2 separate regions of the Homo sapiens genome follow, and region 1 is linked to region 2. Evidence: fine-mapped expression QTL. Tissue or cell type: fibroblasts. Region 2 holds a variant in brackets; the other region holds the start of a gene. All regions are shown on one strand. Distances are from middle to middle.

Evidence for each region. PIP is the estimated chance that this variant, and not a neighbour inherited with it, causes the effect. A credible set is the group of variants that fine-mapping cannot tell apart.
Region 1: TFR2 starts here. The variant in region 2 is the best candidate, but not a certain one, in a credible set for the expression of TFR2 in fibroblasts (GTEx, PIP 0.60).

Annotation. Positions count from the first base shown.
Region 1 is chr7:100,637,341-100,645,442 of GRCh38, reverse strand. It overlaps TFR2 (transferrin receptor 2), which reads left to right and starts at 3,891. Exons shown (of 18, transcript NM_003227.4): 1 at 3,891-3,966; 2 at 4,215-4,467; 3 at 4,571-4,757. The coding sequence starts at 3,934. It overlaps ACTL6B (actin like 6B), which reads left to right. Exons shown (of 14, transcript NM_016188.5): 14 at 2,117-2,346. The coding sequence ends at 2,197.
Region 2 is chr7:99,661,669-99,669,770 of GRCh38, reverse strand. CYP3A5 (cytochrome P450 family 3 subfamily A member 5) reads left to right here. Exons shown (of 13, transcript NM_000777.5): 5 at 2,706-2,819; 6 at 3,082-3,170; 7 at 4,457-4,605; 8 at 5,676-5,803; 9 at 6,889-6,955. It also overlaps a transcript of ZSCAN25 not described here. Among named protein-coding and RNA genes, the nearest start is that of CYP3A5, 14 kb to the left of the region's middle. The variant C/T (reference allele first, on the strand shown) is at 4,822.

The DNA of each region.
Region 1 (8,102 bases), 980 kb before region 2:
TACAAGGAGGCTGTTTTGATTGTCCCGGAGTCATAGCATGGGTAGCAGTGGGGATGGGGTGGACAGCAAGGGGCAACTAGTAAAGGAGGCAGGCAGGTTGGTTCTGGGGCAGGAGGTGGTAAGTTCAGTCTGGACCTGCTGCTGGGTTCGAAGGAAGGTACTGAGCAGGGAGCTGGAGTTGCAACCCGCATCTGGAGGGTATCAGTCACACAGAGGGGACAGTGGGGCCATGACAGACAAGGAGGACATCCACGAGAAAGGAAGTCCCCCAGGGAGACAGAAACCAGGGTCAGAAAGACAGAGGCTGGCAGTCTGAACTTAGCTCAGGGCTGAAGCATGTCAGCCACACAGTTCTTGTTTTTTTCCTTTTTTTGTTTTTGTTTTTGTTTTCGAGACAGTCTCACTGTCGCCCAGGCTGGAGTGCAGTGGAGCAATCTTGGCTCACTGCAACCTCCATCTCCTGGGTTCAAGCGATTCTTCTGCCTCAGCCTCCCGAGTAGCTGGGATTACATGCGTGAGCCACCACGCCTGGCTAATTTTTGGATTGTTAATAGAGATGGGGTTTCACCGTGTTGGCTAAGCTTGTCTCAAACTCCTGACCTCAAGTGATCTGCCCATCTTGGCCTCCCAAAGTGCTGGGATTACAGGTGTGAGCCACCATGCCCGGCCTGAAATTAAGTATTAATAATATATCCTGGACAAGTGGAGTGGCTCACACCTGTAATCCCAGCACTTTGAGAGGCCAAGGCGGGAGGATCATTTGAGCCCAAAATTTCTAGACCAGCCTGGGCAACAAAGCGAGACCTCATCTCTACAAAAAATTTAAAAAGCAACTGGCAATGTGGCGCATACCTGTAGTCCCACCTACTTGGGAGGCCAAGGTTGGAGGATCACTGGAACCTGGAAGGTTGAGGCTGCAGTGAGCTGTGCCACTGCATTCCAACCTGGGTGACAGAGCAAGATCCTGTCTCAAAAAAAACCCAAAAAAATTGGGTGTGTATTTTCCACTTAGAGCACGTCTCAATTTGGACCAGGGCTGGTGAGCTACAGGAAGCTAGTGGCCACTGCATTGGACAGCACATGTGTGTAGGCTGAGAAAGATCAAAGAAGCCCAGCCGTGGTAGCTCACGCCTGTAATCCCAACATTATGGGAGGCTGAGGTGGAACGATTACTTGAGCCCAGGAGTTTGAGACCAGGCTGGGCAACATAGTGAGACACCATCTCTACAAAAAATAAAAATTAGGCTGGGCGCGGTGGCTCACGCTTGTAATCCCAGCACTTTGGGAGGCCGAGGCGGGCGGATCATCTGAGGTCAGGAGTTTGAGACCAGCTTGGCCAACATGGCGAAACCCTGTCTCTACTAAAAATACAAAAATTAGCCGGGCGTGTTGGCACGCGCCTGTAATCCCAGCTACCCAGCAGGCTGAAGCAGGAGAATCGCTGGAACCTGGGAGGCGGAGGCTGCAGTGAGCCAAGATCGCACCACTGCATTCCAGCCTGGGCGACAGAGCAAGACTCCATCTCAAAAAAATAAAATAAAAATAAAAATAATTAAAATTAAAATTTTAAAAAAATAGAGAGAAGGGACACTCTGAGATGCTCATTGCAGGAACCCTCAAGGGGCAAGTTGTAATGCCGAAGGCTGCAGATGGGGTGCCACAGTGTTGGAATGGTGAGGTGGAGGGAATATCTTCCTTGGGAAAGAGGGAGACTGGCGGTGTTCCAAAGCCCTGATGGAGTGAGAAGAGGACACCTGGTGGGGAAGGACTGTGTGTGTGTAGGGGGTGTTGAGTGCCAGGTGCAGGTTGCCTGGCCTGGGGCTGTGCGTGCCATCCCCCCAGCTCAGGAACAGGGCCTAGCTCAGGGCAGAGACTGCTGTTCAATAATACTTGTTGAATGAATGAATTATTGATTGAATGATATGAAGAGGATACTCTCCCTCTGAATATGAAAGGGGACAGACCGAGGAGGGGAGGATGAGGTGGGGAGGGGCTTCAGAGGGATGTGAACCCAAGGGGTGGTTGGGGCCTGTTGGAGGATTCCCAGGGGCTGCACCTGCCTGTCCACACCTCCCTCCAAGGCCACCCTGACCCTGATATTACCCCCTCCACCCAGGGCACTTTCCAGCAGATGTGGATCTCCAAGCAGGAATATGAGGAGGGCGGGAAGCAGTGCGTGGAGCGAAAGTGCCCCTGATGGCACTCCTCCCCACACACCTGCTCCCAAGCTCAGATGGAAGTCCCTTAACCCCCATGCCACATTGCCCCCCTCCTCCTTTCCCTCTTGTCCTCATTAATGGTGATGTTTCTGGGTTGAAAGAAGTAAAAATGTTTTAAGAAAAAAAAGTTTGGCCTCCGTGGGGTGGGGAGTGGGCACAGGGGTCTGGAGGGAGGTGAGGGGAGGGAGTCTCACTTCTACACCCATGCCGATCCCACAGTGGGTGCTGGGACACAGCCCCAGGGGCCATGGATTCCTCAGGTTTCCTAGGGGTTGTGACCCAGGGAGGGCCACATGACGAGGACCGGGGGTTGGGGGAGTTGCTGGGGGCTAACAGTTGTGGTGGGAGGTGGGAGGGGCTGCAGGGTGCAGTGGAGGGGCACGGCCTGGGGTGAGTGTGGCAGGAGGTGGGTGGAGCAGGAGGTGAAGCCTGGATGGGCGGAACAGGAGGTGGGGCCTGGTGGGCGGGGCCTCAGCGTAGGCCTTAGGTCTCAGGGGAGCAGCACGCCTGAGCACCCCAGGACCTGCGCTCAGGTGAGATGCGCTATGCCTTCCTTCCTGGGGCTCTTGGTGGTGACAGACATGGGGCGGGGACTAGGGCGCTGGTGCATCCCAGCAGCTCGGAACTTCTCTGGACCTGAGTAGGAGCTGATGTTTCCCAGGGGAAACCCGAAAGGGAAACTTGGTGGGACCCTGAGCCCTCCTCTTCAGAGCTACTTGTCTTGGGGCCCTCGGAAGGGTTTGGGGACCTGCGCCCCCTGCCTGTTTAGCAGTTTATGCCTGTGACATGTTTCTGGGGTGAGGCTAACTGGCCTTTCATCAGCCTCAGAACCCAAAGAGGTAGAAACCCATGTGATCCAAGTCCTTCGGTGACCAAACGGGCCGGTGCCCAGGGAGGACCATGACTTGTCCAGGGTCACCCAGCTCTGCCCACACCTTGGCGGGGACTCTGATCACTCCTCCCCACTGACCCACATATCCCTGACCCCAGGACCCCTATCTGGGAGCTCTCGCTGGTCTCATCTGACCATGTGCTCCCACCTGTGCCCCTCCTTCTCCAGCAGCCAGCAGGAGTCTGAGAACGACCTTTCAAAAGAGACACACATGCACACCACCAGACCAGACCCCCAAGTCACACCACTGTGGTGCCTCCAGCTTAGAATGCCACTGGGGCAAGTGTCAGGACAGGGAGGACAGCTGATATGTCACAGGACCGGGGCACTGGGGGACTCTGAAGGCCAGATGAGGAAGGGGCAGATGTCTTAGGGGTGAATCTTCCACCTGGGCATGGCGGGGCTTAGGAAGGGGTCCCCAGGATCCAGGGAGGGGTAAAAGCAGGAGAGGGGAGGGGGCACCCATGTCTCTGCCCTCCCCCACTATCGGCCCCCTTCCCCCACCCCTGATGGGAACTAGGAGGCCAAAGTCCGCCCCAAGGTCAAAAAATTGATTGTTTTGCAGGGAGGAGGCAGGCGTGGGGCTGTGGAGAGATTGGCAGGGGAGAGCACAGCCCCTTGTGCTCTGGCCTGGACCCGGGGGCCACGTCTGGAAGGCTGGACTGAGGCCAGGACTGTGCCCCCACCCTTGGGGGTGGTGAGGAGCAGCCTTGGTTCAGGCTGCCTGCCAGGACTGATAAGGGGCCCTCCTAGGGCTCCCACAAACGGTTTATCGGTTTATCGCTGGGGGACAGCCTGCAGGCTTCAGGAGGGGACACAAGCATGGAGCGGCTTTGGGGTCTATTCCAGAGAGCGGTAAGACTAGTGGGATTGGGAAGACCCCTTAGGCCTTCTCTCTAAGTCCCTCAGCCCCCTCCCAAGCCCCTGAGGCTGGCCCCTCCTGGACCGTGTCCTGACCTCGCTTCTTCCCACCCCTGCCCCTCCCCCACGCCCCCACCACCATGCTCATTTGACACCCCCAAGTCACTGACCTCATTATTGCCAGATGCCTCCCCACCCCCCAGGCCTCTTGCCCCAATCTCATGCCCACCTCGCCTGCACAGCAACAACTGTCCCCAAGATCCTCTCAGACCGTCTACCAGCGTGTGGAAGGCCCCCGGAAAGGGCACCTGGAGGAGGAAGAGGAAGACGGGGAGGAGGGGGCGGAGACATTGGCCCACTTCTGCCCCATGGAGCTGAGGGGCCCTGAGCCCCTGGGCTCTAGACCCAGGCAGCCAAACCTCATTCCCTGGGCGGCAGCAGGACGGAGGGCTGCCCCCTACCTGGTCCTGACGGCCCTGCTGATCTTCACTGGGGGTGAGAGCCGTCCCCCTCCCCAGAAGTGAAGGGCTTGGGCTGGGGGAGATTTCTGGGGTCCAGAGGTGGGCATAAAGAGAATCCCCATCTTGCCACCCGCCAGCCTTCCTACTGGGCTACGTCGCCTTCCGAGGGTCCTGCCAGGCGTGCGGAGACTCTGTGTTGGTGGTCAGTGAGGATGTCAACTATGAGCCTGACCTGGATTTCCACCAGGGCAGACTCTACTGGAGCGACCTCCAGGCCATGTTCCTGCAGTTCCTGGGGGAGGGGCGCCTGGAGGACACCATCAGGTAGGGATGGCCCTGCCCCATCCTGTTCTCGAGTGTCCCTCCCCTCATCCGCTCAGACTGGGCCTCCCTGCCTCCTGGCCCAGGCCTCTGGTGTCTGGGTCCCCCTCCTGAGTCCTCCCATCTGCCTTCCTGGCCCCCCTGTTCAGCGGTCCTGGGAAGGATGGCAGGCATTCGGAGCTGAGGTTCCAGGGGACTGAGGCTCTGAGGGTGGCATATTTGGGAGGTGAGGGAGCTGACTGTCTGAGATCAGAGGGGTGCAGCATCCAGTATCAGACTGGACAGACCCAGAAAAGCCTTGAATGCCTCACCCAGGCGCCTAGATTTGGAGCAGGGAGCGCTGAGGGGTTCTGAGAAGCCGCATTCTAGGGAATCAGAAAACCAAGCAAGCAAGCCTGGGCAATACGATGAAACCCCGTCTCTACCAAAGAAAACACAAAAATTAGCTGGGGATGATGGCGAGTGCCTGTAGTCCCAGTTACTTGGGAGCTTGACGGGGGAGGATTGCCTGAGCCGGGGAGGCGGAGGTTGCAGTGAGCCGAGATTATGCCACTGCACTCCAGCCTGGGAGACAGAGCGAGACCCTGTTTCAAAAACAAAATAACGGCAGGGTGCGGTGGCTCAGGCCTGTAATCCCAGCACTTTGGGAGGCGGAGGCGGGCAGATCACTAGGTCAGGATATCGAGACCATCTTGGCTAACACGGTGAAACCCCGTCTGTACTAAAAACACAAAATATTAGCCGGGCATGGTGGCGGGCGCCTCTAGTCCCAGCTATTCGGGAGGCTGAGGCAGGAGAATGGCTTGAACCCAGGAGGTGGAGCATGCATTGAGCCGAGATCACGCCACTGCACTTCAGCCTGGGCAACAGAGCGAGACTCCATCTCAAAAAAAAAAAAAAAGAAAAGAAAAAAAGAAAAACAAGTAAGCAAATGCATTTGTGGGTGCAGATCCAAAAGCTAGGTCCACCCATAGCCCTCTTTTGGGACGGGAGTAATTTTTCAGTGGATTCGCCTGGGTTTTCTAAGTAGGTAATCAGCTAAGCTACAGATAGTAGGAGATGGAGATTCTCTTTTCCAATGCTTATACCTTCTACGTTTTTTTTTTTTTCATTTCTCATTGCATTTGAGAGGACATGAATTTAAGGTAACCGTGGCAGTAGGTATCCTTGCCTATTTCCTGACTTTAATAGCAATGCTTTTATAATACTTTGCCATTGACAATGAACTTTGCTGTGCTCCAGACAGCTTTTTAAAATTGAATTAAGGAAGTTTCCTTTCACTCCTAGCTCACTGAGACTTTTATTGATTGATTGATTTTTTGAGACGGAGTCTCCCTCTTATCACCCAGGCTGGAGTGCAGTGGTGCAATCTTGGCTCACTGCAGCCTCCGCCTCCCAGGTTCACGCGATTCTCATGCCTCAGCCTCCTGAGTAGCTGGGATTACAGGTGTGTGCCATCACGCTTGATTAATTTTTGTATTTTTTAGTAGAGACAGGGTTTTGCCATGTTGCCCAGGTTGGTCTCCAACTCGTAAGCTCAAGCGATCTGCCAAAGCGCTTCGGCTTCCCAAAGTGCTGGGATTACAGGCATGAGCCACAGCACCCAGCCTCTTCTTTAATGTTTATATAGTAATTTGTGTTAATAGATTTCCTTATCTTCCTGAGCTCAACGCTAACCTTGATCAAGGTGTATGATTACTCTTTTGATATGTTGCTGGATTCACCTGCTGAAAGACCTTGAGTCTGTGGAATCAACAATGTTCAGGGCTTTATTTTTTTGAGATAGGGCCTCACTGTCACCCAGACAGTGCCGAGATGATAGCTCACTGCAGCCTCCAACTCCTGGACCCAAGTGATCCTCCCACCTTAGCCTTTCAAGTAGCTAGGACTACAGATGTGTGCCACTATGCCCGGCTATTTTTTTTTTTTTTACTTTTTTTGAGACAGAGTTTCACTGTTGCCCAGGCTGGAGTGCAGTGGTGCGATCTCGGCTCATGGCAACCTCCACCTCCCAGGTTCAAGCAATTCTCCTGCCTTAGCCTCCCGAGTAGCTGGGATCACAGGTGCCTGCCACCACACCCAACCAATTTTTTGTATTTTTAGTAGAGACGGGGTTTCACCATGTTGGGCAGACTGGTCTCAAACTCCTGACCTCAGATGATCCACCCACCACGGCCTCCCAAAGTGCAGGGATTACAGGCATGAGCCACCATGCCCAGCCTAATTTTTAATTTTTTTTAGTAGAAACGAGGTCTCCCTATGTTGCCCAGGATGGTCTCAAACTACTGGCCTCAAACAATCCTCCCACCTCAGCCTCCCAAAATGCTGGGATTATAGGAATGAGGTACCGCACCCAGCCTGCTCAGGGCTTTTAAATTAAATTACAGGTCAGGCATGGTGGCTCACACCTGTAATCCCAGCACTTTGGGAGGCCGAGGTGGGCAGATCATGAGGTCAGGAGATCGAGACTATCCTGGCTAACATGGTGAAACCCCGTTTCTACTAAAAACACAAAAAATTAGCTGGGCGTGGTGGCGGGCACCTATAGTCCCAGCTACTTGGGAGGCTGAGGCAGGAGAATGGCATGAACCCGGGAGGCGGAGCTTGCAGTGAACCGAGATCGCGCCACTGCACTCCAGCCTGGGCGACAGAGCAAGACTCTGTCTCAAAAAAACAAAACAAATACAAAATTAGCCGGGCGTAGTGGCGCATGCCTGTAATCCCAGCTACTCGGGAGGCTGAAGCAGGAGAATCGCTTAAACCCAGGAGGCGGAGGTTGCGGTGAGTCAACGTCGTGCCATTGCACTCCAGCCTGGGCAACAAGAGTGAAACTCCATCTCAAAAAAAAAAAAATTAAATTACATTAATTTTTTTTTGAGACAGGGCCTTGCTCTGTCACCTAGGCTAGAATGCAGTGGTGCAATCTGGGCTCACTGCAGCCTCGATTTCCCAAGCTCAGGTGATTCTCCCATCTCAGCCTCCTGAGTAGCTGGGTCTACAGGGAGGGGCCACCACGCCCAGCTAATTTTTCATTTTTCTTTTTTCAAAATTATTATTATTATTTAGGGACAGGATTTATTTATTTTTATATATTTGCAACCAATTCTCACTCTGTTGCCCAAGCTGGAGTACAGTGGCATGATCTTAGCTCACTGTAACCTCCGCCTCCCGGCTTCAGGTGATTTTTGTGCCTCAGCTTCCCAAGTAGCTGGGACTACAGGCGTGAGCCACCATGCCCAGCTAATTTATGATTTTTTTGTTTGTTTTTTGTTTTTTTCTTTTTTTTTGTGAGACAGAGTTTCACTCTTGTTGCCCAGGCTGGAGAGCAATGGCACGATCTTGGCTCAC
Region 2 (8,102 bases):
TGATTTAGTTGTGTCTTTTAATAGCATGGTGACATTTCGATTTCTTCAGTGACATTATATTCATCATCAATACCTCTAATAAAAATAGCAAGTTGTGCCGTATCTGTAGTGTCAGTGCCTTCATCCATCACCAAAGCATAAAATTTTAAATTAGCAGTTTTACTCTCCAAACGTCTTTCAATAGATTTCCCAATTTCTCCAATTCTCCTGGCTATAGTCTGGTGAGACAAACTGATTTTAGAAATATCAGTTTCTCAAGGCAAATAATATCTACCACATCTTCCAGACATTGCTTAATAAACTCACCATCAGTAAATGGTTTTGATTTTTTTGCTATTAAATTTGCTACCACATAACTAGGTTTTACCTTACGATTGAGTCCGAGTTGTAACTTTTTAAAAAATCTTTTTTGTTGAAAAGACAGACTTTTTTTCAGTTCTGCTATTTTGTCCTTACAACACATACACACCAAATTTGTCAGCACGTTTTTGCATATAATGCCTCTTCAAATTGTAGTCTTTGAAAACTGGCACAAATTCCGTGGAAATTAAGCAGAGTGCTTCGCTATTTGCCTCAACAAGAAAAAGTCATTTGTCCACTTTTCATTGAACAATCTTCCTTCATCCATAATTTTTGTTTTTTAGGGTTTTCTTTTTAAGACATTGTGGAAGCCATTCTGGAATTAAAAGCATTATAATAGATAAGCAACTATATTTACTTTTATTATGGAAATTAACAGATAGGAAAATAGAACAGAAAGCAAGGTTTAATAATCAAATAAGAATACTTACATGTCTTCTAAATAATATTAAACACCTATCATCTACAAAGGTAGGTTGAAATATTATTGATAATTGCTGGGTTTTACTTGCCAAATTGCCACAAACACACCTAATACCTGACAGTGTCAATTCAACTGTCCGTGATTAGAAGATAACACACTGGAAGTCGCACACCACCATAAAACTGAAGCCACACATGCGTACAAATGGCGACAGTGTCTGGTGTACAGCAGCGCTCTGCCTTGTCCAGAATACACACTTGAATTCTTTGTCACAATTCACTTCACGTGGCACTGCAATAGCGTCCTCTCGCTCTTTGTTAGTTAATTTTAATGGCTTTTAATTTCTTCTTGCTGAACTGTTTGCAATTATAATGCAAATTATGGATACTAGTCCATTATTTGTGGATGTGACATACTCTGATTACCCCTTTCCATTCCATTGTTGTCTACGAAGTTCACACTTGAGAATCACATAGTCAAATTACAAAATTACAAAAAAAATTGCAAAAAAACTCAAAATGTTTTAAGAAAGTTTCCACATTTGTATTGGGATACATTCAAAGCCATCCTGGACTGCATGAGGCCTGCAGGCCACAAGTTGGACAAGCTTGAATTAAACCAATAGAACAATTTGGGTATAATCTATATCTTTACTATGTTCAGCCTTTCATCCCGTGAATATAGTATGCCTCTCCATTTCTTTAGCTTTTATTACTTTCCTCAACATTTTATAGTTTTCAGCATAGAGGTCCTGTACATCTTTTGTTAGATTTACACCAGAAATATTTCATTTTTGTTGGAGTAACTGTAAATGATACTGTTTTTCTTGTATTTTCAGATATTGATTATTGTTACATAGAAATGTGAATAATTTTGTTTGTTGATCTTGTATCCTATAGCCTTGCAGAACTTACCTATTCGTTCTAGAAATTTTTTTGTATATTCCTTGACATTTTATACATTGACAATTATGTCACCTGAAAATAGAGACAATTCTATTATTTCCTTTCCAATCTGTATGCCTTTTATTTCTTTTTCTTGTCTAGTGTATTAAGACATCAGGTATGCTCTTTAGTAAGAATGTTGAGAGTGGGCATTTTTTAGTTCTTCTTGATCTTGGAAAAACCATTCAGTCCTTCATCATTAAATGTGATTTAACTGAATGATTTTTTTACAGATTGTCTTTATCAAATGAAGGAACTGTCTCTCTCTTCCTAGTTTATTGAGATTTTATCATGACAGCTGGAAGTACACATTTTAAAACAAAACATAGTTGTGGAAGATAAGAGAAAGTTCCAAGCATGCTGGCTTGATAGTCCAGCCCCAAGTTGGGAAAAGTAATTATCCCTTTCTTTTTCCTTCTATTTATGGAATAAAAAATTAAGAGAAAAGAATTTTCAAGGAAATTGCATTATTCCTTCAAAACAGGTTTCTAGTCTTTAAGTATTACCTACTTTTCAAAAAAAAATCACCACATCATGGCATCCCTTTTTCAAGTTGCCCATGCTGTAGGTGTATTAAAGACAGAGCTGGTCTGAGGCAACATACAGTCTGCCCATCTGTCACCAATCCTTTTCTACTCTGCACACTCCTGGGGAAGGGCTAGGTCTTGTTCCTGTCTATTCCACTGGAAGAACAGTTCCCTACCACGTGGAGCATTTGCAATTAAAAGGAGACTGAGATATAGAGGCAGGAGACCACACCAGATGGCTGGGTCTCCCCACTCCCACCCCCGCCCCACATACACTCAGAAGAGGCTAGGCATCTAGGATCTCCATTGAGCATCTTGAATATGGCTTGCCATAATATCATATACAGTCAATAAATATTTGTTAAATAAGGATGCCTCTTCAATATATTTTGTGCAACCATGAAGATCACCACAACTAATGTGAGAAAAAATGTTTCTGTTGAACTCTAGTCTTTAGGCCCAGTGGGATTTATGAAAAGTGCCATCTCTTTAGCTGAGGATGAAGAATGGAAGAGAATACGGTCATTGCTGTCTCCAACCTTCACCAGCGGAAAACTCAAGGAGGTATGAAAATAAGATGAGTCTTAATTAGAAATGTAAAGAATGAATCTGGGGACAGGTAGAAAGTAAGATCACAGTCCGTTTCCAAGGGGTAGTCCACTGAGTTCGAGCTTCCTAAAAATGGTCTTTTATCTTTATGTACAGAAAAGACATCACAAAATTCATTACAAAATGTCACTTACTGCTCCATGCTGGAGAAAGCCATATCCTTCTGGGACTTGAGTCTGCACATTTAACTACAGGTACTGATCTGTTTTGTGCTTAGATGTTCCCCATCATTGCCCAGTATGGAGATGTATTGGTGAGAAACTTGAGGCGGGAAGCAGAGAAAGGCAAGCCTGTCACCTTGAAAGAGTAAGTAGGAGCACAGCCATGGGGTTCTGAGCTGTCATGAGCCCTTCCAGCTGCCTGCCATGGAGTCGACAGTCGCACTGTTGGGTTACTCCAGTGACCAGACAAAAGCAGGGCAGCGCTGCAACTCCAAAGAGCCACCTAAGAGGGAGTGGCTCCCATGAGGCGGCAAGTCAGCAAGGGAAAAGGGCCTTCTCTCCTGTGCACAGGAGCCAGGATTTACTTATCTGTTAACTTGTCACCATAAATATTCTGGGAGATTAAATACATACTTTAGAAATTAAAAAAACATGATTGTATCAAAGTTTTGAGTGTAGTGGATATGGAACTGTGGGTAAGCAAGCATTTGGTACTTGTTGCCTTGCATTGGGTAAGATGGGAAAGTTACAATGGGGAACTTGGAACAATTTCAATCCCTTCATGGTTTTTCTGAGAATATCAGCAAACTATGAACTATTAAACCTTCCCACTACTTCCTTTTCCTCCAATCTCAAAAAAGAAAGGGTGCTAGAAATGCTATGTGTAGAGCAAGCCTATTATTTGCTGTCTACAATGGTATGTGCTTCAATTATGCAGGAACGACAGGTGTAATCTGAGCCTGTCCTGTTCAGACTTGGGACATGTGGTCACTCAGTTTTGGGTTCTCCAAATCAATGTTGGAGAGATCTATTTTTTTTAACCAGAACATTCTTGATTGTCACATCTTACAAAAATGACTCTGCTCTCAGCGCAACTTCAGGTCAGAGGAGCTGGGGATAGTGGGGTTTTCCAGAGCATTAGCAGGGAGTGTAGAGAATAAAGGATGATATTTCTAGGAACTCAGAACAGGGTGTTACTGTTTTGTAAAGTGTTGAAGAGGAATTGGCTCTGGGCATAGAGTCTGTAGTCAGACAACGCCACCTTTCTTGAATCCACTAGGAAGAGTTAATTATTCTACTCTTGTTCTGCTGAAGCACAGAGCTTACATATCTTATATCATCCACACTCAACACATGCTACTGTAGTTGTCTGATAATGGGTCTCTGTCTTCCTATGACTGGGCTCCTTGACCTCAGAGGTGAGTCTAACTCAGCTTGGTGTCTCCATCACCCCCAGCATAGGGCCAGCTCCATCACTGGCACCAGATAACCACCTTCTGAGGGAGTAGATGGAAGATGATTCAGCAGATAGTTCTGAAAGTCTGTGGCTCTTTATGTGTCTTGACTGGATATGTGGGTTTCTTGCTGCATGTATAGTGGAAGGACGGTAAGAGGTGCTGATTTTAATTTTCCATATCTTTCTCCACTCAGCATCTTTGGGGCCTACAGCATGGATGTGATTACTGGCACATCATTTGGAGTGAACATCGACTCTCTCAACAATCCACAAGACCCCTTTGTGGAGAGCACTAAGAAGTTCCTAAAATTTGGTTTCTTAGATCCATTATTTCTCTCAATAAGTATGTGGGCTATTATTTCTTTCTCTCTTTTTAAAAATAACTGCTTTCTTGACATATAATTCACATATCGTATAATTCATCCACTTAAAAGGTACAATTCCATTGTTTTTAAGATAATCAAAAATATGTATGACCATTACTATTGTAAACTAAAATGTTTTTGTCAATCTAGAGCCCTCACACACTTTAGCTGTCAACACCCCACCACAAACCCCA[C/T]TGCCCTAAGCATCCAATAATCAACTTTCTGCCTCTATAGATTTGCCTATTCTGGACACTTCATAGAAATAATATCATTGATTTTTCTCTGTTGTTTTTTATTCTCTATTTCATGAGTTTATTTTAGTCTGTTATTTTCTTTCTTTTGCTGGCTTTAGGTTTCATTTGCTCTTCTTCTTTTAGTGTTTTGTGGTGTAAATAATTATAATCAATTTGAGATATTTTCTTCTTTTAAATTTAGATATTACAGCTATAAATTTCCCTCTGAGCACTGGTTTGGCTACATCCTGTGTTTTGGTACATCATGCCTTCTTTTTGTTCATCTCAAAACAATTTCTTGTTGCCCTTTTGATTTCTGCTTTGACTCACTGGTCACTTAAAACTGTATTGTTTAACTTCCACAAATGTATGAGTTTCCCAAATTTCTTTCCCTTATTGATTTCTAGTTTTATTCCATGGAAGTTGATGTACATATGCTGTGTTAATTCTATCTTGACTATCATTTCCTGAACAGCATGATTAAGTTAAGCAGCAGATTATGGTCTACATTAATCCAAAAACTCTAGTCCAATAGATAAAGGCTAAGAGGTCAGGGAATTTAATTCTATTACTTTGGTCACTCCAAAGACTCAGAAGGTGCCATTGATCTCACTGCTGTAGTGGTGTTTCCTATGTATAGACCTGCCCTTGCTCAGTCGCCGGCCTGAAAGAAGGGCAAACATGATAAAAGGAATGGGTTCCAGTTGAGAATCATGATGTTCTTATTCTTATTACTGGTAGAGAAAATTATAATTGCTCCAGGTAAAGTTTGCATTTTCAATGATTTCCTTTTGTTTGTTTTGTTTTTCCCACAGTACTCTTTCCATTCCTTACCCCAGTTTTTGAAGCATTAAATGTCTCTCTGTTTCCAAAAGATACCATAAATTTTTTAAGTAAATCTGTAAACAGAATGAAGAAAAGTCGCCTCAACGACAAACAAAAGGTAAAATCTGATGGTGGTTAAATGACGATGTTTAGGTTTTGATAAATTTAGATTTTATACACATGATAGAGCATGTATCTGTATTTTTAAAAATAAAGACAGAGAACTTATGTTTAGAACAAGAGAAGCCATTTGGTAGAAATAAAGAAGGAGATTGGGGAAGGAGATGAGAATGAGTCAGAGAGATAGCATTTAAAACTTGAAATCAGGCACAACAATTAGTATGTCATGATATAAACAGTATTGAGATAAAATTTTACCACTTCTCTTCCCTTTAATAAATTGTCAAAGGATAAAGTTTCCTGTTTGAAAATATATTTTACTGGTATTGTGCTTTCCTCATATCACAGATTGGTAAAGAATCATTTTAAGTCCAAGACTCTTATTTTACATATTCTGCAATTAAAGGTCCTATGAGGCTACCTGCCGACTGCTGACATGTAGTGTGTGGTAAATGTGAGTGTTTCACAGCCTGGAGTGAACAGGGGTCTTCTCTGAGAATTGAGGTTGCAAGGCTGGCTAACTCAGCTTTGCCTTCACGAGCCCTAGAGGCCAGCCGAAGGATGTCTGCAGGTCAGGGAGACAGGACCAGGTAACCCAGCTGTCACTGAAGATTATATAGAGTTTGAGAATGTTGGAATATTTGAAAATGCTCCCCCAAAAAAGCTGCTGATGAGTTCTGGAAATGTCAGGAGATTAATCTATACGGACACTGCTGAAGAAAAAGGTAGAAGAATAAAAGATCCAGTACTTCTTCCTGGGTAAGCAGTTATGACCAGAGATGGAACCGGCAACTCTTTGGCCAGAAAGCTGTATCCAAAAGACAGAGAAGATGAGAAACAGGGAGGGCAAAGGCGAAAAAGCAATTGGACATGATAGCTAGATTTGTTTCAGGAAAACATCCTGCTTTCCAAGGATTTAGATGAATGTTTTTGTTCACTGGTGACTCAGGTAACACGTCTTCAAGAAGCCATAGGGAGGTTGAGGGAGGGAAGTCAAGAAGGGAGGTTGAGGACTGCACTTTTGATTTACTTCTGACTTCACGAGTCACTTTCTGCCAAAGAAATCTCTCCTTTTGCTTCTAGCACCGACTAGATTTCCTTCAGCTGATGATTGACTCCCAGAATTCGAAAGAAACTGAGTCCCACAAAGGTAACCAAGGAGTGCTTCTGAGGGCTACTGGCGGGGACACTAAGAGGGAGGGCCTTGTTCTGAAAATGTGCAGGAAGTATTCCAGGAAGATGAGAATTTTTGCCACATAGCAGAACAACACACATTTAGATGTTATAAATGGTAGCTGGAGGCACTTTCCAGAAGCCCACAGGTATAGCCATGTTCCAGGCTGAAAGGGCAACCCTAAGCAAACCTAGAATGCTTGGAGGACAGTCAGTGGTTTGTGGATCACCTACATGAGATCAAATGCCAGTTCTCAGCCTCCTCCAGATCCACCAAGTGAGAACCTCTACTTGGAAATTTATATCAAACATACCGATCAGGAAGCACACTATCCCAGTAAGGGTGATTTTAACTGGCAGTACTTGAAAGTGTGTTCGCAAGGTTAATCTACTGCAAAGTTTTATTTTTCCCTTTGAAATGCATAAGTAACTAATGGGGGACACCTCTGATACCATGTAAATCTACTTCAATCTTCAGTCTTGTATCTACTAGTTTTATGACCCATGGATGGTTTTAACCAAAACCATTATTACTAAGACAGTGGCAAAATGATAACCATGGTCAATTTCAAGCTACCAAGATTTGGCAACCATCTCACAAAATTTTTGAATATTTAACAATTGGTTCTAGAGAGCAGGACTCAGCAGACTCCAGTATACCACTTTAAACATGTCCATGTCTACATCTACTTCTGTCTGTCTATCTATCTGTCAATCATCTATCTGCCTATAATTTATCAATTAATCATCTATCTATCTCAACAAAACTTGCTGTGATAAAGAAAATAGTCTATCATTTCACTGTTTCATATAGAAATCACTAGACACATATGGCTATTGAGTACTGGACATGTGGCCAATGCCACTGAAGAACAATTTTTAAGAGTATTTATTTTTAATTGAATAAAATTTGAATTTAAATAGCCACATGTGGATAGTGGCTACCAGATTGGACAGCAGAGCTCCCAACTTTAAAATTACAGTTCAATTTCAACTCAGTATAATGGGGTTCAATGTAACTGAGTAAAATAATTGGATGGTTGAATTTACCCACAGCAGCATACAGAAATATTCACTGATAAATCAGAACTCTGTAGACCTTTCTCACACTCATTTTATATTGT